Linked DNA regions of Homo sapiens. The protein of the gene in region 1 interacts with the protein of each later gene in a pairwise test. Each region holds a gene or a part of one and is shown in the gene's direction. Other genes may lie near its edges.

Region 1 (7,652 bases):
ATTCTCCTCCAACTGTGGGGTGACTGCTTGGCAAACTCACTCTTCGGGGTATCCCAGGAGGCCTGGAGCATTGGGGTGGGCTGGGGTTCAGAGAGGAGGGATTCCCTTCTCAGGTTACGTGGCCAAGAAGCAGGGGAGCTGGGTTTGGGTCAGGTCTGGGTGTGGGGTGACCAGCTTATGCTGTTTGCCCAGGACAGCCTAGTTTTAGCACTGAAACCCTCAGTCCTAGGAAAACAGGGATGGTTGGTCACTGTCTCTGGGTGACTCTTGATTCCCGGCCAGTTTCTCCACCTGGGGCTGTGTTTCTCGTCCTGCATCCTTCTCCAGGCAGGTCCCCAAGCATCGCCCCCCTGCTGTGGCTGTTCCCAAGTTCTTAGGGTACCCCACGTGGGTTTATCAACCACTTGGTGAGGCTGGTACCCTGCCCCCATTCCTGCACCCCAATTGCCTTAGTGGCTAGGGGGTTGGGGGCTAGAGTAGGAGGGGCTGGAGCCAGGATTCTTAGGGCTGAACAGAGAAGAGCTGGGGGCCTGGGCTCCTGGGTTTGAGAGAGGAGGGGCTGGGGCCTGGACTCCTGGGTCCGAGGGAGGAGGGGCTGGGGCCTGGACTCCTGGGTCTGAGGGTGGAGGGACTGGGGGCCTGGACTCCTGGGTCCGAGGGAGGAGGGGCTGGGGCCTGGACTCGTGGGTCTGAGGGAGGAGGGGCTGGGGGCCTGGACTTCTGGGTCTTAGGGAGGCGGGGCTGGGCCTGGACCCCTGGGTCTGAATGGGGAGAGGCTGGGGGCCTGGACTCCTTCATCTGAGGGCGGAAGGGCTGGGGCCTGGCCTCCTGGGTTGAATGGGGAGGGGTTGGGCCTGGACTCTGGAGTCCCTGGTGCCCAGGCCTCAGGCATCTTTCACAGGGATGCCTGTACTGGGCAGGTCCTTGAAAGGGAAAGGCCCATTGCTCTCCTTGCCCCCCTCCCCTATCGCCATGACAACTGGGTGGAAATAAACGAGCCGAGTTCATCCCGTTCCCAGGGCACGTGCGGCCCCTTCACAGCCCGAGTTTCCATGACCTCATGCTCTTGGCCCTCGTAGCTCCCTCCCGCCTCCTCCAGATGGGCAGCTTTGGAGAGGTGAGGGACTTGGGGGGTAATTTATCCCGTGGATCTAGGAGTTTAGCTTCACTCCTTCCTCAGCTCCAGTTCAGGTCCCGGAGCCCACCCAGTGTCCACAAGGCCTGGGGCAAGTCCCTCCTCCGACCCCCTGGACTTCGGCTTTTGTCCCCCCAAGTTTTGGACCCCTAAGGGAAGAATGAGAAACGGTGGCCCGTGTCAGCCCCTGGCTGCAGGGCCCCGTGCAGAGGGGGCCTCAGTGAACTGGAGTGTGACAGCCTGGGGCCCAGGCACACAGGTGTGCAGCTGTCTCACCCCTCTGGGAGTCCCGCCCAGGCCCCTGAGTCTGTCCCAGCACAGGGTGGCCTTCCTCCACCCTGCATAGCCCTGGGCCCACGGCTTCGTTCCTGCAGAGTATCTGCTGGGGTGGTTTCCGAGCTTGACCCTTGGAAGGACCTGGCTGGGTTTAAGGCAGGAGGGGCTGGGGGCCAGGACTCCTGGCTCTGAAGGAGGAGGGGCTGGAACCTCTTCCCTAGTCTGAGCACTGGAAGCGCCACCTGTGGGTGGTGACGGGGGTTTTGCCGTGTCTAACAGGTACCATGTGGGGTTCCCGCACCCAGATGAGAAGCCCCCTCCCTTCCCCGTTCACTTCCTGTTTGCAGATAGCCAGGAGTCCTTTCGTGGTTTCCACTGAGCACTGAAGGCCTGGCCGGCCTGACCACTGGGCAACCAGGCGTATCTTAAACAGCCAGTGGCCAGAGGCTGTTGGGTCATTTTCCCCACTGTCCTAGCACCGTGTCCCTGGATCTGTTTTCGTGGCTCCCTCTGGAGTCCCGACTTGCTGGGACACCGTGGCTGGGGTAGGTGCGGCTGACGGCTGTTTCCCACCCCCAGGCCTGCATTGATGAGAACCTGGAGGTGGTGCGCTTCTTGGTGGAGCAGGGCGCCACTGTGAACCAGGCAGACAACGAGGGCTGGACGCCACTGCACGTGGCCGCCTCCTGTGGCTACCTAGATATCGCCAGGTGAGGCAAGGGAGGGCCGGGCAGGACCTGGTCGGGGTGGGGGCCTGGACCCTCAGCCCTGACCAGCCCCCACCCCCAGGTACCTCCTGAGCCACGGGGCCAACATCGCCGCCGTCAACAGTGACGGGGACCTGCCCCTGGACCTGGCCGAGTCGGACGCCATGGAGGGGCTGCTGAAGGCGGAGATCGCCCGCCGAGGTGGGCTCTGGTGTGCTGTGTGTGGGGTGGGGGACACCTCCTCACCCGTGGTCTCCAGGCTGAGAGCTTTAGAGGCGGCCTGGGCACCGAGGCTGACCCTGCTTCCTAGGATTGTCTTTCTTTGTGCCTCAGTTTCCTCACCTGTGAAATGGGGGTGTAGGGGCCTGCCTCCAGGATTGCTTGGAGCCCAGCACACGCACAGGATGAGAACTCAAACCCCTACCAACTGGGACTGTCAATCCCCCTGAGTAACTGAGGGGATTGGAATGCCGGGGCGGGGTGGGTGGGTGGAGGGACTCACCCAGGAGTGCGTTAGGTAGGATTGCTGGAACCCTGCCGCAGGTCTTTCTGGGAGGGGATGCGTTTACTTGGGGGGGAGTAGGGGCATGCAGGGGTTGCCAGGGACTGGTCTCCCTGTCCTCTGAGACTCATCGTACCCCAGGAGCCTTCATATGGGGTCCAGGAGCCCCTGAAACTGTGTCTGGCCAGGTTCATTTTTCTAGGGAAGGGGTGTTGCTTCTAGCAGGTGTGTGATGGCCACACAGGATCCCTGGGTCCCCAGCATGTCTTCTAAAGTCCTGGGCTTGCCTCCCAGCTCTGCCTGTGACTGGTGACTCCAGGCACGTCCCTGAAGCTTGCTTCCCTGATTTCCTAAAACAGGACCACTGGTGCCGCTTCATGGGGTGGTTGTCAGGGTCTGGCTGGGTTGGAGTGGAAGGGTGTGAGCATGGTTCCCGGCAGACTCCAGGGGACCGTGTGGAAGGAAAGGGAGACTGACGAGGAAATGAGATACCGGCAGCCTCCGAGACTTCTGACGCGGCTGTCCTGACGGGGCCGCTGGCCAGGCTGAAAGGATAGGATTCCGCGTGGGTTCAGGGGTCCACGAGAGCCATGCGGGAGGACTAGCTAGTGGGACACGTGACGGCGGAGATCTGAGGTTCGGGAGCCCCTCTTTGGTTGAAATGGGGAGTGGGTCAAATCAGCCCTGGACCTGGATTCTGTCTCCTTCCTCCTCCAACTTTTTATTTTGGGAAAGCTTCAGATTTACAGAAAAGTTGAAGCAATAGCATGTGACTACCCATATGACTTTCACTAAGATTCGCCAGTGCTTTTTCTTTTTTGTTTTTGTTTTTTAGACAGCTTTTTGAGATGTAATTCACCTACCCTACAATTCACCCAAAGTGCACACTTCAGTGCTTTTTAGTCTATTCACGGGGTCGGGCATTTATGACCACATTGGTTGTAGAACATTTTCATCATCCCCCAACGAAACCCTGCAACCGCTTAGCCATCACCCCCAACCATGCACCCCCCCCTCCCCCCCACCCCACGAAGCCCTCTCTGCCTTCTGTCTGTGGATTTGCTGTTTTGTACACTTCACATAAAGGGAATCATACAGTATAGAATCATCAGCTTTTAACTTTTTGATAGATTTGTGTTCCTTCTCTCTGTCCCTCCCTTGCGATCTCTTCCCAGGTATAGACATAAACACATTTTTTCCTATCCTTTCTCCTCCTGTTTTTTTCCCTCCATCTCTCCCTTCCTTTCTTACCACCCCACCCCTGCCTTTCCATTCCTGAGCCTTTTTTTTTTTTTTGAAACAGAGTTTCACTTTTTGCCCAGGCTGGAGTGCAATGGCATGATTTCGGCTCACTGCAACCTCCACCTCCTGGGTTCAAGCGATTCTCCTGCCTCAGCTTCTGGGTAGCTGAGATTACAGGCGTGAGCCAGCATGCCCAGCTAATTTTGCATTTTTAATAGAGATGGGGTTTCACCATGTTGACCAGGCTGGTCTCCAACTCCTGACCTCAGGCGATCTGCTGGCCTCGGCCTCGCAAAGTGTTGGGATTACAGGCGTGAGCCCGGCCATTCTGAGACTGTGTTGCAGGCATTGTACATCTTCGCCTGATGCACAGCAGGTATCTCCTGCCACAAGGAAAACCTCCTGCAGAACCACAGTAGGGATGCAACACGCTACCCCCTGTGTTGACCTTGATGCTACACTCTCACCCACCGCACCAACCTTGATGCTACACTCTCACCCACCGCACCAACCTTGATGCTACACTCTCACCCACCGCACCAACCTTGATGCTACACTCTCACCCACCGCACCAACCTTGATGCTACACTCTCACCCACCGCACCAACCTTGATGCTACACTCTCACCCACTGCACCAACCTTGATGCTACACTGTTGCCTGCGTTTCTCCTTGACATTCTTTGTAGCCTCTCCCGCTCTGGTTCAGGGCCCAGCTAGGGATCCAGATCTGGGTGATTTAGGCTCCCTCTGTCTGGATCAGTCCTCCTTTTCCCTTGGACCCCAGGGAGGCCGGGAATGGCCTCCAGGGGGTCTGTGAACTTTCTGACGTTGTATTTTCCTGCAGAAATTGCTCATAACTTGCATCAGCTTCTCAGAGGGGGCCATGCTTCTTCCCTCCCGTGGGGTGAGGAGAAGGCTGGGAGGGATACATTGGTGGGGGATATTGGCTTGTAGGATCAGCCAGGAACGAAGACCACTGGGGCCACTGGAAAGACCCTCAGCCGTGCTGCTCGGGGTGGGACTCTGCGGCCCCAAATCACAAGGCGACTGCCTGTGACACCCTGTGACACCCGGCTCCACACAGGAGCCTCAGAGGGGCTGCAGTGCGCAGGACCTGGATCACAGGCTGCACCCCAGCTCTAAGGAGGGCGGGTCTTTTGCACCCCCTGCAGGACACGCCCACATGATGCAGAATTCCCCGAGGTGCTGGCATCCAGACTGGCTCTGGCCATAGTGTGGCCCTGGCAGCCACTCACAGGCAGGGCTGGGAGAGAAGACAGACCGGCCTCAGGCACGACCATCCCCTTCGCTTTCCCTGGCTTACTTGCTGTTTTCCTCTCTCTGGGTCTGGGGTTCAGTGAGAGCACGTGATCTGCTCAGCCAGTCACCTCGTGGCCTGGAGCCACCGCTCCCTCCAACACCGCAAAGTCCTCTGGCCCAGTCGACTCAGGGGCTGAATCGGGCATGACTCTTTGCAAGAACCAAAACCCGTTCCTCCTGGCTCAGGCCGGAAAAGGCCATTTGAGGCCTGGCACAGTGGCTCAGACCTGTAAGCCCAGCACTTTGGGAGGCCAAGATGGGAGGATCTCTTGAGCCCAGGAGTTTGAGACCAGCCTGGGAAACCTAGTGAGAACCCATCTCTATAAAACAAAACACATTAGCCAGGCGTGGGAATGCACGTACGCTCCCAGCTACTCAGTAGGCTGAGGTGAGAAGATTGCTTGAGCCTGGGAGGTGGAAGATGCAGTGAACCACGGTCACTCCAGCCTGGGGGCAAGACCCTGTCTCAACCAAATAAACCAAAACAAAAAAGGCAATTTATATACCCGTGTTCATAGCATCGTTCACAATAGCCCAGAGGTAGGAGCAACCTAGTGCCCATCATCGAATGAATGGAAAATCAACATGTGGCCCATCCATGCGGTGGGACATGATTCAGTCTTCATCCCAGCACTTAGGGAGGCCGAGGCGGGCGGATCACCTGAGGTCGGGAGTTTGAGGCCAACCTGACCAACATGGAGAAACTCTGTCTCTACTAAAAATACAAAATTAGCCAGGGGTGGTGGCACATCCCTGTAACCTCAGCTGCTCAGGAGGCTGAGGCGGGAGAATCACTCGAACCTGGGAGGTGGAGGTTGTGGTGAGCCAAGATCGTGCCACTGCACTCTAGCCTGAGCAACAAGAGGAAACTGTGTCTCAAAACAAAAAACAAAACAAGACAAAACAAAAAACACACAATGTAGATGTATCTTGAGGACATTATGCTAAGTGAAAAGTGAAAATAAGCCAGTCACAGAAGGACAATTACTGTCTGATTCCACGTCTGTGAGGTACCCAGAATAGTCAAAATAATGGAGACAGACAGTAGAATGGCTGTAGTCAGGGACTGGGAGGAGTGGGGAGAATAGGAAGTAGTTTAGTGGGTACACATTTTTTAAAATGATTTTTATATTTTTTGTGGAGACGGGGTTTCACCACGTTGCCCAAGCTAGTCTGGAACTCTTGAGCTCAAGTGATCCACCCACCTTGGCCTCCTAAAGTGCTGGGATTGCAGGTGTGAGCCATTGTCCCTGACCTAGGGTACACGATTTTAATTTTGCAAGATGAAAAAATTCTGGAGATTGGTTGCACAACAACCAATTGTGACTACTTAATGCCACTGAATTGGGGTTAAAATGGTAAATTTTAGGCTGGGCGCGGTGGCTCAGGCCTGTAATCCAGCACTTTGGGAGGCCGAGGTGGGCAGATCACCTGAGGTCAGGAGTTTGAGACCAGCCTGGCCAACATGGTGAAACCCCGTCTCTGCTGAAAATATAAAAGTTAGCCGGGCATAGCGATGTACACCTATAGTCCCAGCTACTCGGGAGGCTGAGGCAGGAGAATTGCTTGAACCCAGGAGATGGAGGTTGCAGTGAGCCGAGATCTCACCACTGCACTCCAGCCTGGGCAACAGAGCAAGACTCAGCATCTCAAAAAAAAAAAAAAAAGATGGTAAATTTTATACTGTGTGTATTTTACCACATTTTTTTCACTCTGAGATGGAGTTTCTTTATTTTTATTTTTATTTTTTATTTTTTTAATTTATACTTTAAGTTCTATGGTACATGTGTACAACATGCAGGTTTGTTACATATGTATACATGTGCCATGTTGGTGTGCTGCACCCATTAACTCGTCATTTACATTAGGTATATCTCCTAATGCTGTCCCTCCCCCCACCCCACGACAGGCCCCAGTGTGTGATGTTCCCCTTCCTGTGTCCAAGTGTTCTCATTGTTCATTTCCCACCTATGAGTGACAACATGCAGTGTTTGGTTTTCTGTCCTTGCGATAGTTTGCTGAGTGATGGTTTCCAGCTTCATCCATGTCCCTACAAAGGACATGAATTCATCCTTTTTTATGGCTGCATAGTATTCCATGGTGTATATGTGCCACACTTTCTTAATCCAGTCTATCATTGATGGACATTTGGGTTGGTTCCAAGTCTTTGCTATTGTGAAAAACAGCAGCAATGGAGTTTCACTCTTGTTGCCCAGGCTGGAGTGCAGTGGCATGGTCTTGACTCACTGCAACCTCTGCCTCCCGGGTTCAAGCAAGTCTCCTGCCTCAGCCTTCCAAGTAAGTGGGATTACAAGCACCCGCCACCATGCCCAGCTAATTTTTGTATTTTTAGTAGAGATGGGGTTTCACCATGTTGGCCAGGTTGGTTTTGAACTCCTGACCTCAGCTGATCCACCCGTCTCGGCCCCCCAAAGTGCTGGGATTACAGGCGTGAGTCACCGTGCCTGG
Region 2 (6,624 bases), on another chromosome or scaffold:
CGATCTCCTGACCTCAGGTGATCTGCCCGCCTCGGCCTCCCACAGTGCTGGGATTACAGGCGTGAGCCACCGCGCCCAGCTGATCATAACTAATTATTAAGTGCCCACAATGTGCCAGGTACCGTGCTAAGGGCTTTCTGTGCATGGTGTCATTTAATGCTCACAGCTCTCTTATGTGGCAGTTACCAATTCATTTTACAGATGAAGAAACAGAGTGAGGGTCAGAGAGGTTAAGTCACCTGCTGCACCTCTTGAAGTTGGGATTGGCTTGGGAGTCAGCGAGGTTGACCAGGATGACTGCTTATCTCTACGCTGTGTTGTCAGGATTCTTGGTTGGAAACAACCAAATCCAACTTGAGCAGAAGGAAGAGGCAGGTATTGGCTCTGAGGTAGCTCACAAAATCAACGGAAAAAAAGTCTAGGGCACAGTCACTCACGCCTGTAATCCCAGCACTTTGGGAGGCCGAGGCAGGCCAATCGCTTGAGGTCAGGAGTTCAAGACCAGCCTGGCCAACATGGTGAAACCCTGTCTCTAATAAAAATACAAAAAATTAGCCGGGCGTAGTGGCGGGCGCCTGTAATCCCAGCTACTCAGGAGGCTGAGGCAGGAGAATTGCTTGCCCAGGGACACGGACGTTGCAGTGGGCCGAGATCGCGCCACTGCACTGCGGCCTGCACAACAGAGTGAGACTCCGTCTCAAAAAGAAAAAAGAAAAGAGTCTGGGAAATTAAGGTTGGGAAACTCGTAAGAATTATAGGAAACTGGGCAGCTAGACCCACGGCCAAGCCAGGAACCTCCTCTAGATGCCAGTGTAGGACGTGGAGGGCCACAGGCCCCGCACTGGCACCGTGATTTCTCCACTGTTACCTGTTTGTTTCTTTGGGACACCACTCCAGATTCAAGTCAGGCAGCCAAGTGCCTGGACTCGCATCTGTCCCAGTTACCAGAAATCTCTGCCACCCAGAGCCCCACCATGGAGGCTCCCTTCTCCCCAGATAGGAAGGCTGTTCAAATGCCACATAGCAAACAGTGATAACAAAAACATCCACCACGGCACACGCCTGTAGTCCCAGCTACTCAGGAGGCTGAGGCAGGAGAATCGCTTAAACCCGGGAGGTGGAGGTTGCAGTGAGCCGAGATTTCGCCACTGCACTCCAGCCTGGGAGACAGAACGAGACTCCACCTCAAAAAAAAAAAAAAAATAACCGAAGTCGTGGGTGCCCTGGGTCTGAGGTGACCATATGCCACTGGCTTTCTTGTCCCCATGTCCATGGCTGGACCTTTGTAGAGAGAGTCTCTGAACTAAGGCTTCTGCTCTTAAAGGAGAATATGGAGACGACACCCCTTTTTGTCATCTGCTTTATCCCATTGGCACCCCCACATGTCAATTCTATTTTCCAAACAGGTGTTGACTCCGTGCCCTTCTCTCACCACTGCCTGCATAGCTCAGGCCCCCCCTTCCTCCAGGATCCTTGCTTCCTAAGTGGAATTTGTCTTAACATCCATTCTCCACACTGCTCAAAGAGCTCTAGCTGTAATTCAAATACGGCTGACATTCCTCTGCTTAATAACCTTTTGCAGTACCCAGCTGCCTACAGGGCGAAAAGCAAGCTTTTGGGACGACGCCTGGTGATCTCCAGCCTTATCTCCCGTCACTCCCTGGCCTCACATTTGGTGGTTTGGCAAAGTCACTTTCCTGTATTTTTCGCATCATCCTGTGACCGCTTACACTTCCAGGGCCTGGCACCTGCTGTTCCCTCTACCTCCTGTCTGCTTGGCAAACTGCTATTCATCCTTTGAAATCCAGTTCAGGGCCGGGAGCGGTGGCTCACGTCTGTAATCCCAGCACTTTGGGTGGCCGAGGCGGGCGGATCACTTAAGGCCGGGAGTTCGAGACCATCCTGGCCAACATGGTGAAACCCCGTCTCTGGTAAAAATACAAAAAATAGCTGGGCACGATGGTGGGTGCCTGTAATCCCACGTACTCGGGAGGCTGAGGCAGGAGAATCGCTTGAACCCGAGAGGTGGAGCTTGCAGTGAGCCAAGATTGCGACACTGCGGTCCAGCCTGGGCGACAGAGCGAGACTCGGTCTCAAAAAAAAAAAAGTTTTTGTTGAATGAGCGCATGAAGGGGCAGAGGCTGCAATTGCGCCCCTACGTCTTCCACACCGGGCGTGTGGGTTGAAACGCCAGGGTCTCGCCTGGGAGAGAAGGAGGCTCAGGGCTTCCCGGGACCCGCTCTCCGGAGGGGGTGGGGTCGAGGCCCCCGTGAGCGGCTCCCGGACTTTCTCTCCCGGGCGGGCGTTCCGTCCTCCCTCGGGGAGCGGCGCCGGAACTTCCGGAGGAAGAGCCGGAACTTTTGAAGCCCAGGCCCCGCCCGGCGCTAATAGGCACCTACGCGGCCGCCGGCGGAACCGCCAGACCCTAAATCACGGCGCCCCGCCCGCCCCCGCCCGCCCCCGCCCGGGCCGAGAACTCGCGCTCCCGGGCACGGGCAGGTGCCGCGGAAATGCCGGGCCCGCCGCTCGCTTTGAAGTCGGCCGCGCCCCGCAGCGCCCGGGAGTCCCGGGTTCCAGGAGGGGGCGCCTCTCCCGGGTCCTCGGGGTTCTTCGCGTGGGGCCGTTTCCTGACGTGCGCGGGGAAGGGCGGGAGCGGCCGGGAAACGCCACCGGGAAACGCGCGCTGCGTGGGCATTTTCTTTGCTTTTACTGACCTTTTTTTTTTTTCTGGTTTATTTTTTGTTGTTTTTGAGACGGAGTCTCGCTCTGTCCGCCAGGCTGGAGCGCAGTGGCGGGATCTCGGCTCACTGCAACCTCCGCCTCCCTGGTTCAAGCGATTCTCTGCCTCAGCCTCCCGAGTAGCTGGGACTACAGGCTCCCCGCCACCACGTCCAGCTAATTGTTGTATTTTAGTAGAGACGGGGTTTCACCGTGTTGGCCAGGCTGGTCTTGAACTCCTGACCTCAAGTGATCCGCCCACCTCGGCCTCCCAAAGTACTGGGATTACAGGCGTGAGCCACTGCGCCCGGCCTCTAGCTGTTTTATAATTCGACATATATTGCAGATTTGGGGGACATAGAACCTGGGAAATACAGATGTCCTTAGGATGCTTTCATCCTAGTGGGCAAGGCAGACAATCACAGAAGTAAATACATACACTCTGCTTCCTAATGCCTTATTATTTTCTTTTATGGAGAAATTCACAGTTTGAAATAATGGGGTTATTGGCAATGCTCTTTTGGCGAGATGGATGTGAACCACACACCCATTCCAATGCCATAGGCCTTGGCATCTTAGAGGCATTTGGATTGTGACTGGGAATGAGTGGCCTTCAGGCGCTCCAAATAACTCAGCTGTGGATGCCGGAAATTCTACTGGGGGTCTTTCTTTGGGAATAAACATCATCTTTTTTCTGAGACCCTCTTTCAAATGCAAATCCCTGGGGGAAGAGGACAGAGGCTGCTCATTGAGTTCATAACCTGGCAGGGCTGTGTCACAAGATGGGGCTGCCCGAGGGCTCTGGACCCCAAAGATGCCCCTGATGTGGACCCAGGGCTGCAAAGGGATCTTCCCCGTCACCCTCTGCTGCTGACTCATCCCAGCTCTGCCTGCAGAAGGGGAGTCAAAGGGCAGTGGAGGGAGAGTCAGGCCCAACCAAAACCCGAACCCCAATTGCAGCCAGCCGCCCTCCATAGCTGAAAAAGCCGGAAGCTCTGGGTCAGCTTTACCTGCAGGGCCCTGCGCCTCCCATATGAGTCCTGCCGGGACACTCATGCTTTTCCTCAGTGACATCTCTGTGGTTGCCCACGGGACTTGACAAGAACTTTCAAGGTTTTGTTGTTGTTTTTGTTGTTGTTTTTCTGAGACGGAGTCTCGTTCTGTCTCCCAGGCTAGAGTGCAGTGGTGCGATCTCGGCTCACTGCAACCTCCAGCTCCTGGGCTCAAGCCATTCTCCTGCCTCAGCCTCCCGAGTAACTGGGATTACAGGCGCCTGCCACCACGCCCGGCTAATTTTTGTGTTTTTAGTAGACGGGGTTTTATATACTCTGTTGGCCAGGCTGGTCTCGAACTCCTGAACTCAAGTGATCCGCCCGCCTCGGCCTCCCAAACTGCTGGGATGACAGGCGTGAGCCCCAGTGCCCGGCCCTCTGCCTCTTTTTATTCCTATCAGCTCTCCTGCTAGAAGCCAAACTTAGCACCTTATCTGGGAATGGGGAGGAAGAATGTGGAACCCAGACACCCCACAGCGGCCCCAGAGCTAGGCAGGGCAAGGTCCCCGGGGCAGCGTGGCCGGGCTGCCCGTCTGGTCCCCGCTTACAAGAACCTGCAAGCTTCCCTCCTTGCTTTCCTTCTTCCCCTCGGTTCCTCCCCCGCCGACCTACCTGGAGGCCGATAATAAAGCAGGAGGAGGGAGATGGATGGACGGGAGGGCGGGGCGCCGCGTGGTGCCATAAAGCCCAGCTGGAAGGGGCCTGTCTCGGGAGTGTCCAGCCCCAGGAGCCGGGGACCGTCCGCGTCGCGAGCCGGGCCAAGGCAGTGGGCAGAGGGCAGAGGGCAGAGGGCCGGGGCTGGGGCAGAGGGCGAGTGCCCGGGAAGGCCATGCTGCGGGGCGCGCCAGGACTAGGCCTCACGGCGCGGAAGGGGGCCGAGGACTCTGCGGAGGACTTGGGGGGCCCCTGCCCCGAGCCCGGGGGCGATTCGGGGGTGCTGGGGGCGAACGGCGCTTCCTGCAGCCGGGGCGAGGCGGAGGAGCCGGCGGGCAGGAGGCGCGCGCGGCCGGTGCGGTCCAAGGCGCGGCGCATGGCCGCCAACGTGCGGGAGCGCAAGCGCATCCTAGACTACAACGAGGCCTTCAACGCGCTGCGCCGGGCGCTGCGGCACGACCTGGGCGGCAAGAGGCTCTCCAAGATCGCCACGCTGCGCAGGGCCATCCACCGCATCGCCGCGCTCTCCCTGGTCCTGCGCGCCAGCCCCGCGCCCCGCGGGCCCTGCGGACACCTGGAGTGCCACGGCCCGGCCGCGCGCGGGGACACCGGGGACACAGGCGCCAGCCCCCCGCCGCCTGCAGGGCCCAGCCTCGCGCGCCCAGACGCCGCCCGCCCCTCGGTGCCGTCCGCGCCCCGCTGCGCCTCGTGCCCCCCGCACGCGCCCCTGGCACGGCCCAGTGCGGTGGCCGAGGGGCCGGGCCTAGCACAGGCCTCCGGGGGAAGCTGGCGCCGCTGTCCGGGGGCTTCCTCTGCCGGGCCGCCTCCCTGGCCGCGGGGCTACCTGCGATCCGCCCCCGGGATGGGCCATCCGCGCTCCTGACCGGCCTCGAGGCACCGGCTGGGCTGCAGGGAGGCCGGGCTGGCAGCTGGACTATAAAACCCGGGACTGCAAAGGCGTCTTGGACAGAGCAGAACTGGACCGGCTGAGACCTGGCGTGGAAGAGAAGGAGCTCGCCAGAGAGAAGGAGCTCCGGGACCCGGGGTTGCGCCCCCACATCCCAGCCTGGGGCAGAGAGAAGGAGCTCCGGGGCCTGGGGCTGCGCCCCCACATCCCAGCCTAGGGAGGCAGTTGCCAGAAAGGCTCAGGATCCTGAACTCATCTTGGACTCGAACTCGTCTTGGAATGCCGCCTTCGCACTCCTGCGCCTCCGAGCCCTGTGTGTTCTCGATGCTTTTAGGAGAGTGAGGGCTTTGAGGCAGGAGGTGTGGGAGCGTGGGAATGCGGGTGGGGCCTGCTGTGGTCTCGTGGGCACATGAGTGCGGAGTCCCCTTCCCTGCCTGCGCTGCTGCCCAAGCCTGATCCGGGAGAGGCAGGATCCGGGAGAGGCAGGCAGGGGCAGCAGCCAAATAAAAGGAAAAACTCATTTCTCTCCGATACCACGACTCCAGTGGGCCCCGTGGCCCAGGGTGGCAGGAACGCCTGAGGGCTGGGGGCTCTCCTTGGAATGCTGGGCGGGGCCTAAGGCCCACAGGTAGGCGCCTGGGGGAACTCATTCATGGCAAGACCCCAGGTGTGGCTGAGCACTGTGGGAGCCCAAGGGGAGGAAAGAGACATCCAGAGACCCCTCCTCCCTGAGTCCCCTGGGGTGGAAGAGGATATCAGGAGAGGGGTCACGGGGCCTGGGAGTCTAAGGATGGGGTCAGCCCCGTCTCTGGACCTCCCTGCAGAGCTGCCTGGAAGCAGCCACAGTGAAGGGGGACTCTGGCCAGGTCTCAGGGAAGGAGGCCAAGGGCAGGGCTAGGATTGGGGGCCGGTAAGTCCTGCGTGCATGTACCCCGAGCGACAGGCAGGAAGAGCTCCCAGGGAACCGTGGGCCAGGGCCCCCATAATGAGGGGCCGACTTGGAACCCAGGAAGGATTCTGGGGAGGGGGTTGAGTGAGGGCAGAGGGGCCTCAGGCCAAGCCTGCTGAGCTAGTGAGAGACACAGCCAGCTGCCCCGAGAGTTTTGTCCAGAGAGCTGCCCTGCATCTGAGATGAGCTGGTGTCTGGCCCGGCTCAGGGTAAGGGTCTAATATTGCAAGGGCTGCCTGCTGGGCCAGAGCCCAGAGGTGCTGGGGGAGCGCTGGGCTCTTGCCAACAGGAGAGGGAAGGGTTCCCCACAGCTAGCTCAGAGTGCGGATCCCACAGAAGCTAGA
Region 3 (7,652 bases), on another chromosome or scaffold:
AAGCTCCGCCTCCCAGGTTCACGCCATTCTCCTGTCTCAGCCTCCTGAGTAACTGGGACTACAGGCGCCCACCACTGCGCCTGCGGTGTTTCACCTTGTAAGCCAGGATGGTCTCGATTTCCTGACCTCGTGATCCGCCTGCCTTGGTCTCCCAAAGTGCTGGGATTACAGGCGTGAGCCACCGTGTCCGGCCAATACACAGGTTTTTTTTCTTAAAAGTTCTACTCATTTTTCTTTTCCCTTTACCACATCAATAGATACTTACATGGAAGTGCTTACATTTGATTGTTCAGTATTGTAGAGAGGTTTTTTTGTGTTTTTAAAATTCATCATTACCAAATTTAGATTTTTTGGATGCCAGTATTTTGTGTTTTTTTTAAAACAAGGTTTCATTCCAAATGTAAGGAGGGTTAGCAAAACCTCGTTTTTCTCTTTAATTTTTTTTAAAAGTACATTTATAAAATCTTTGTAGATTTCATGTAACTTTTGCTTTGCAGGGAAGATGCAGGTGTGAGCCACCGTGCCCGGCCTCATATAGATTTTTAAAACTTGAGGTAGCTTGTGAAGTTATTTCTACTAACTTTATAAAACTTTTGAGATTGCTATGTACAGTTAGTTTTGTGGGTTTTTTTTTTTAAGGGAAGTGAAGATTGCATTCTCTTAGGCTGTTTAGTTACTCAGAATACTAGATTGGCCTAGCCAAACCTGTAAAGGTATTTATTTGGTAGAGAAAATTTGAAGCTGTGGTTTCATTTGTATCTCCATTTGAAAAAATACAGTTGTTTCTTGGTGTCCACAGGGGATTGGTTCCAGGACCCCCCTGCCCATACCAAAATCCAAGCGTGCCCAAGTCCCTTATATAAAATGGTGTGGTATTTGCACGTAACTAACACACATCCTCCCATATTTTAAATCATCTGTGGATTGCTTGCAATACCTAACACAATGTAAATGCTGTGTAAAAAGTTGTTATACCGTATTGGTTTTTTTATTTGTATTTTTTGTTGTATTGTTTTATTTTCTTAATATTTTCAGCCTGGGGTTAGATGTGGAACCTGTAGATACAGAGGGCCAACTCTATATTGAATAGAAAATAATAATAATAGAAAATATGTGATTCTGGCTGGGCGTGGTGGCTCACACCTGTAATCCCAGCACTTTGGGAGGCCAAGGCGGGTGGATCACCTGAGGTCAGGAGTTTGAGACCAGCCTGACCAACATGGTGAAACCTTATCTCTAATAAAAATACAAATATTAGCCCGGTGTGGTGGCGTGCATCTGTAATCCCAGCTACTCTGGAGGCTGAGACAGGAGAGTTGCTTCAACCTGGGAGGCGGAGGTTGCAGTGAGCCGAGATCGAACTCCAGCCTGGTGACAGAGCAAGACTCCATCTCAAAAAAAAAGAAAGAAAGAAAATATGTGATTCTAATAAATCCCCCTTCCGTTCTGTAAACTTTCGTATTTACTTTGTGAGTTGTTAATTGGATTAAATTTTGTTTGCTTAAATTTATAAGTATTGTTATATTCAAGAGAGATGAAGGCTTATTTTGTGCCTTTTATAGTGGTAATGAAAATTTGTAACACTTTAAATTGCAAAAGAGAAAAATTAAACCTTTCTAATCAAAAGATCTAATGGTTACCACCATACCCATATGATCAACCTTAGCATTGCTGTTAGACGGCCTGACGCAGTGTGCCTGCTGTGTGTTGCAGGAAGGGGCACACTGCCTCACCTGGGAAGTGTTCCTGCCTAAAAGCTTTACCCTGAATTCGATCAGGCCTTTAACCTCCAGGTTTCAGGAATTACAAGGCATAGAGGAACAAGCTCAACTAAATAACCAGGTAGTTATTAGACAGATCTAGAACAAACAGCATTTTACAAGATAGTGTCAGAGGAAAAAAAGGAAGAGGAGATGAAGATGATGGTGATGATGATGATGGGGAAGAGGGACTGTTCTTAATCAAGACACTTAAAAACCAAAAGCATTTCAGGAACTTTGGTAGGATCCTGGTTCAAAAAAAAAATCAGCTGTTTAAAGGACATTTTTGGGATATCTTGGAGAATCTGAATGTGAACTGGATGGGAAATGACATGGGAATTAGTGATTTTATTAGGGGTAGTAATCTGACAGGAGAATGTCCACGGTTTCAGGAGATTGGGGTGAAGTGTCATGATGTCTCCAACTTTCTTTCAAATGGTCTAGCAAAAAATACAGGTGTAAGGGCAAGAAGTATGGTAGAACATTAACAATAATTGAATGTATAGAAATGATTTTCTTTTAAAAACTTTTTTTTGTAGATTCATAATAAAGGAGATAGGAAGGATTCTATATCCTAGTAGGAGGGAACAAAACTCTTATCCCCAAGTATCTTTTGAAAGTGACTAAGTTTACTGTAAACCTTTCACAGAAATGGAGAAAATCTCATGTTTTTGAAAAAGCTGAAAGAAAATAATATATGATTATAGTAATAAATTAAAAGGCTGTTGTTTTGAGATTATGGTTTTCTCATATCTCAAAGGTTTGTTGCAGGGACCAGAAAGAAAATCTTTGTTGCAAACAGTGTGAATTTTAATTTGAAACTTCAGTATGTTTTCCTTGTTTTTGATGATTTTAGAGCCAAAGGACGAAACAAAGTACAGTCCTCGCCCCAGTCATTGACCTGAAGCGAGGTGGCTCCTCAGATGACCGGCAAATTGTGGACACTCCACCGCATGTAGCAGCTGGGCTGAAGGTAAGCCCGCGCCTGCCTGTGAGCTTGATACGTGTCTCTGTTCCCATGTGGCTTATTTTGCATATGAGTTACTCTTAACAGATGGCCTCCTTGGTGGGCCTTTGAAACCAAGTTAGTATCATTTTCCACCTAATTTTTACTTCTGTTTTGCCAATTTTAAAATGTATCTATTTGAAATTAAATAGTTTGTTGTAGAAAAATCAGAAACTAGAGATACGCAGAAAGAAAAACAAATTACCTTCAGTCATACAATCCGGAAGTGAAAAACGTAATATTTTTCCATCCTGTGCCTACTCCACCTTCTGCTAACTTGCTTTTCTTACTTAATACGTTGTGACTCTGTCAAAAAATACAGGACTGTATGATCACGTTTATGGCTTCACTATATTCCCTTGTATATAGATGGACTATAATTTAATTCCTTTAATGCTGGATATATGGGTTGTTTCTATTTTTTGCTATCATAAACAGTGTTAGTACTTACTGATTTATTGTGGATTAAAACAGAGAAAGGGGTTTTAAAACCCACTTCTACCACCCTAACCTGTATGATTCCAGTGATTTTACATATGCTTAAAAACAAACATGTGGTCAACTCTATAAATTGGGTTATTGAGGATGAAGAAGATCTGGAAAAGGATAACTCAAAATCATAGTTAAAACTAGACAAAATGAGGTAAAATGAGTGAATAAACTAGTTAAAATTATACCCACAATTTAAGTATACATTTATCTTTCCACAGATGGCGTTCAAATAATGACTGTGGTCATTTAAACAGCATCATGAATTGCACAAAACCGCTTGATGAAAAATGACCAAAAGATTAATAATAGTGCTATCGAGACAGTTTCTTAGCAAGGCGCGCCTGTCCTCCCCACCACCTGTGGGAAGGGCTGCATCAGGCTGGGGCAAAGGGCACACTCCTGCCCATCTGTTTCACGTCACTGTTCTGGGTTGGGCTCCGTCTCCTGCCTGTCCTGCTTATGTTCTGGGCCAGTCTGTGGCTGCAGCTTACCCTTGAGTTGTCCTTTTCTGAGGGGAGCGGGTGCTGTTCCTGAGGGCTGGTAGTTCTTCTGGAGGGGAAGCACCACATGGTGGAGGTGTTTTTTTGCTGATTCCTAGTCATTGAGCATTTTCCCCCATAAATTTGATACCTAGTTTATTCCTGCTACATCTAATTTAAAAACTGGTTCATAGTTTCTTCTGTAATCGTGTATTGGTTCTAGTACCTATAATATTAGTCTCCTATTTAATGAGTAAGCCTTTTTCCTCCTTGTTACATAGTTTTCACGATCAGTTTTTAATTCTCATTAAGCGAATGCATCATAATTTACACAAGTATTCCCTAACTGTAAAACCACCTAGATTTGCTTTTACATTGCCTTTATAAATACCACTCTAATGAACATCTTTTTGTGGTTTTTATTTTTGAGACAGGGTCTTGCTCTGTCACCACGCTGGAGAGCAGTGGTGCAATCTTGGCTCACTGCAGCCTCCTCCTCCTGGGCTCAAGCGATCCTTCCACCTCAGTCTACTGAGTAGTTAGGACCACAGGCATATGCCACCACATTTGACTAATTTTTTGTAGAGATGAGGTTTCACCATGTTGCCCAGGCTAGTTTTGAACTCCTGAGCTCAAACGATCCACATGCCTTGGCCTCCGAAATTGCTGAGATTACAGGCATGAGCCACTGCACCCGGCCCTCTAATGAACATCTTTACAGAGATGTTTCTATGTAATTAGGGTTATTTTCTTAGATTTTCTGAGGTGGCATTAAGATATCAGCCATTTTTATGGCCAATCTGTTCTGGCACCAGTTTACTCCCAGCAGTGCACAGTATCACCTCAGGCATATGAGGGTGAATTTTACCCCATCCTCCCCCCTCAGCATTGAGGGTATTAACATTTTAATTTTTTTAAATTGAACAAATCACTTTATTCATTGCAGCATTTAGAAAAGGATGATTGATTTCATTGTTAAGCATAGCAGGGTTTATATGTAAAAGTTTTTTTCTTTGAAATTTTGAAGTGTCAGAGAATGAACCTTCATATTGACAGTTTGTTCTCTTAGACACGTTGTGATAATTGTGTTAGATAAATTGAGTGGCTGGTTGTCATTTTCTCTCTAAATAATAACTGAAAAGAAATCTTCATGTGCTTTTGTATTTTTTAAATGTCTTTTATAAAATGAATACAAATGTATAACTAACCTTTAGGAGCCCTACATTAAATACATTTTCCAGTGGGTAGGGCCTGGGAGGTGATTATAGTTATTTTCCTAATTGCTCTTATTCATTGGATCATAGCATTTCCTGATATTTCGTCGTAAGGAAATGGTGAAGTGTTTGTTTTATAGTGCAAAATGTCACACCGAACCATGAAACACAGGAACTGTTCGATTTAGGTCTGTTAATATGGCGTGTAAGCTGTCTTGATTTTGTCAGTTCTGTGTTCAAGCAGGAAACACGTTTACAAACGACCTTCTTGCCTTTGATACAGTTGGACATTGTACCTCCTGTAAGAGGTACAGACTGGGCGCTCAAGGACATGAATCCTTGTTGTTTTGCATGTGTGTTTTAAAAAAAATGGGGACACTAATCCTAACCTGTGCTTGTTTGAGGTGTCTTTCAAAACCAGAGAAGGCATCTTATTGTTACAGATAATAACGAAGAATTATGCTAAGAACACTAACAGGAGAAAGTGTGGGAAGGTTTAGGAAAGTGGGGTCAGGGCTTCCAGCACCACGTGTAGACCGAGGCTGCCAGCCTAGGGTAAAGTTCTGTGTCTGCTCATGTATTTCCTAGTATACTGGCTGTGCTCTGCCTCTCGTTTTGCTAATTTCTTTGTCATGGCTACCTCTTTTCTTTCAAAGAGTAGACCAAGTTTCTGAATGTATAGACGAGAAAACACGAAGTGTTATCTAAACCTGATTTTAGTGAACCTTAAAAAAAATTATGATGCTGGAAGGGACATTACATCCCCTTGTGTCAAACTCAGTGCCTGAAATGCAGCCTACCTGGGAAGGGACATGTGTTCAGAGGATTAGAAAGACCAAGAAGATGCTTTCTAAGATCTCCATATATTCTTATCTCCATGTAATCAGAATCTGAAGTTATTCTGTTAAAATGATGACTGCAAGAATGATTGTGGTGTTCATGGTTGTTTTATTTTTTAAGTTGTCATAGAGATCTATAAAAACAAGTATTCAGTGCTTTACTATAAGTATTCTAATTTTTTGACTCAAAGTACTAGTAACTTATATTTTAGCTGGTGGTGGCTTATTTAGGAATTCCAGGAAAAATGCCATAGAGTATTATAGAAATAGTACTAATCTAAGAGGTGAAATTTTGTGTCCTGTTTCTGCTACCACCTGACTAGGCACGTGGCCTTGTCTGGTATTTGTTTTCTTTGTCTTTAAAACAGAGGAAGGGGCTAGATGATGTTCAGAGTCCTTTTATCTCCCATACGCTTTGACCTGAATCCTGTGAGTAAACTGGTAAGATATAAAGAGGATTCTTACTGCTGTTTTTACCTTCCTCAGGATCCTGTTCCCAGTGGGTTTTCTGCAGGGGAAGTTCTGATTCCCTTAGCTGACGAATATGACCCTATGTTTCCTAATGATTATGAGAAAGTAGTGAAGCGCCAAAGAGAGGAACGACAGAGACAGCGGGAGCTGGAAAGACAAAAGGAAATAGAAGAAAGGGAAAAGTAAGGCTTCCTTTGGATTTGGGGATATTTTACAGTTGAAATGTTCATTAAAATGTTAACGAATGAGCGTCGCTGCTGTCTGTAAGGCTGAAGTTAATTGTCATGGGTGATCTGAGCAGTCACTACAAGGAATCAAACTGTTTTACGATTTGTACCTGTTACATCTCAGAATCACAGCAAACTTCACCTGTAGACTGAAGACCTAAAGTGTATATTTTGAGTGAGTTGTTAGAAAAATAACTTATAAACCTGATGTTGAAAATTTTTTTCTATGCTGATACTCTGCTATAGGTTGACTATCCCTTATTCAAAAATCCGAAATCTGAAATGCTCCAAAATCTTTTGAATGCCAACATGCCGCTCAAAGGAAATGTGCATTGGGGGATTTTGGCTTAGGGATGCTGAACTGGTAATTGTAATGCAAATATTCCAAAATTTGAAACACTTCTGGTCCCAGGCATTTGGAATAAGGGATTCTCAACTTGTAAAATCACAGCTATTTAAAGTACTTGAAATATTCTTCTTAACTTTACTATTTTTGAGCCAGGTGGAATTTTTAAAAATTCATATGCAGCTTTTATTTATGTTTTTGCAAAGTACGAGTAGTAGGATGTATTTGTAGTTCTTTTTAAAAATATTTAGTATTATCAAATAGTTAACATGTATTAAATATTAATATACTGTTTCCCATTTATTGAATCATTTCATGAGTGAAAGTGTTATAGACTATTGAAATGATTGAACTATTACTATGTTGATAGGCTTTAACATTGGAAGAGGTCAATGTCAAGGAACCTTTTTTTTCATGCTGGTTGCTCTCGTATACTTATTGGTTCAATTTATCTCTTGAATTTTTCTCACTTTTCATACTTTTATCTACTTTAGTCTTTTACCAGTTATGCTTCCTACCCCCTCTACCCCTGCAACTTCATAGTTGATTGTGACAGGATTTGGATATCTTCTGGTCAAGAGGAAGTCATCCCAGGTTCAGGTCTCTAAATTGGTTCATCTGTGATGAACATTTATTTCCTTTGTTATCACAGAAGGCGTAAAGACAGACATGAAGCAAGTGGGTTTGCAAGGAGACCAGATCCAGATTCTGATGAAGATGAAGATTATGAGCGAGAGAGGAGGAAAAGAAGTAAGGCATGAACAAATATGTCTTAAACATATATAAATACTGGAAGTGCAATTCCACTATGTGCTTTT

The links. Proteins that work in one complex are often made in the same cells at the same time.
Region 2: the proteins of PPP1R12C (region 1) and BHLHA9 interact in binary tests that used the Homo sapiens proteins (3 or more experiments, as listed by UniProt).
Region 3: the proteins of PPP1R12C (region 1) and RBM17 interact in binary tests that used the Homo sapiens proteins (3 or more experiments, as listed by UniProt).

The regions. Positions count from the first base shown.
Region 1 is NC_000019.10:55,107,134-55,114,785, reverse strand, and holds part of PPP1R12C (protein phosphatase 1 regulatory subunit 12C), read left to right. Parts: intron 1-1,990; coding exon 1,991-2,121; intron 2,122-2,200; coding exon 2,201-2,319; intron 2,320-7,652. UniProt on the Homo sapiens protein: Regulates myosin phosphatase activity.
Region 2 is NC_000017.11:1,265,965-1,272,588, forward strand, and holds BHLHA9 (class A basic helix-loop-helix protein 9), read left to right. Parts: upstream 1-4,479; 5' UTR 4,480-4,599; coding exon 4,600-5,307; 3' UTR 5,308-5,851; downstream 5,852-6,624. UniProt on the Homo sapiens protein: Transcription factor, which play a role in limb development. Is an essential player in the regulatory network governing transcription of genes implicated in limb morphogenesis.
Region 3 is NC_000010.11:6,098,655-6,106,306, forward strand, and holds part of RBM17 (splicing factor 45), read left to right. Parts: intron 1-2,616; coding exon 2,617-2,733; intron 2,734-6,276; coding exon 6,277-6,443; intron 6,444-7,486; coding exon 7,487-7,584; intron 7,585-7,652. UniProt on the Homo sapiens protein: Splice factor that binds to the single-stranded 3'AG at the exon/intron border and promotes its utilization in the second catalytic step. Involved in the regulation of alternative splicing and the utilization of cryptic splice sites.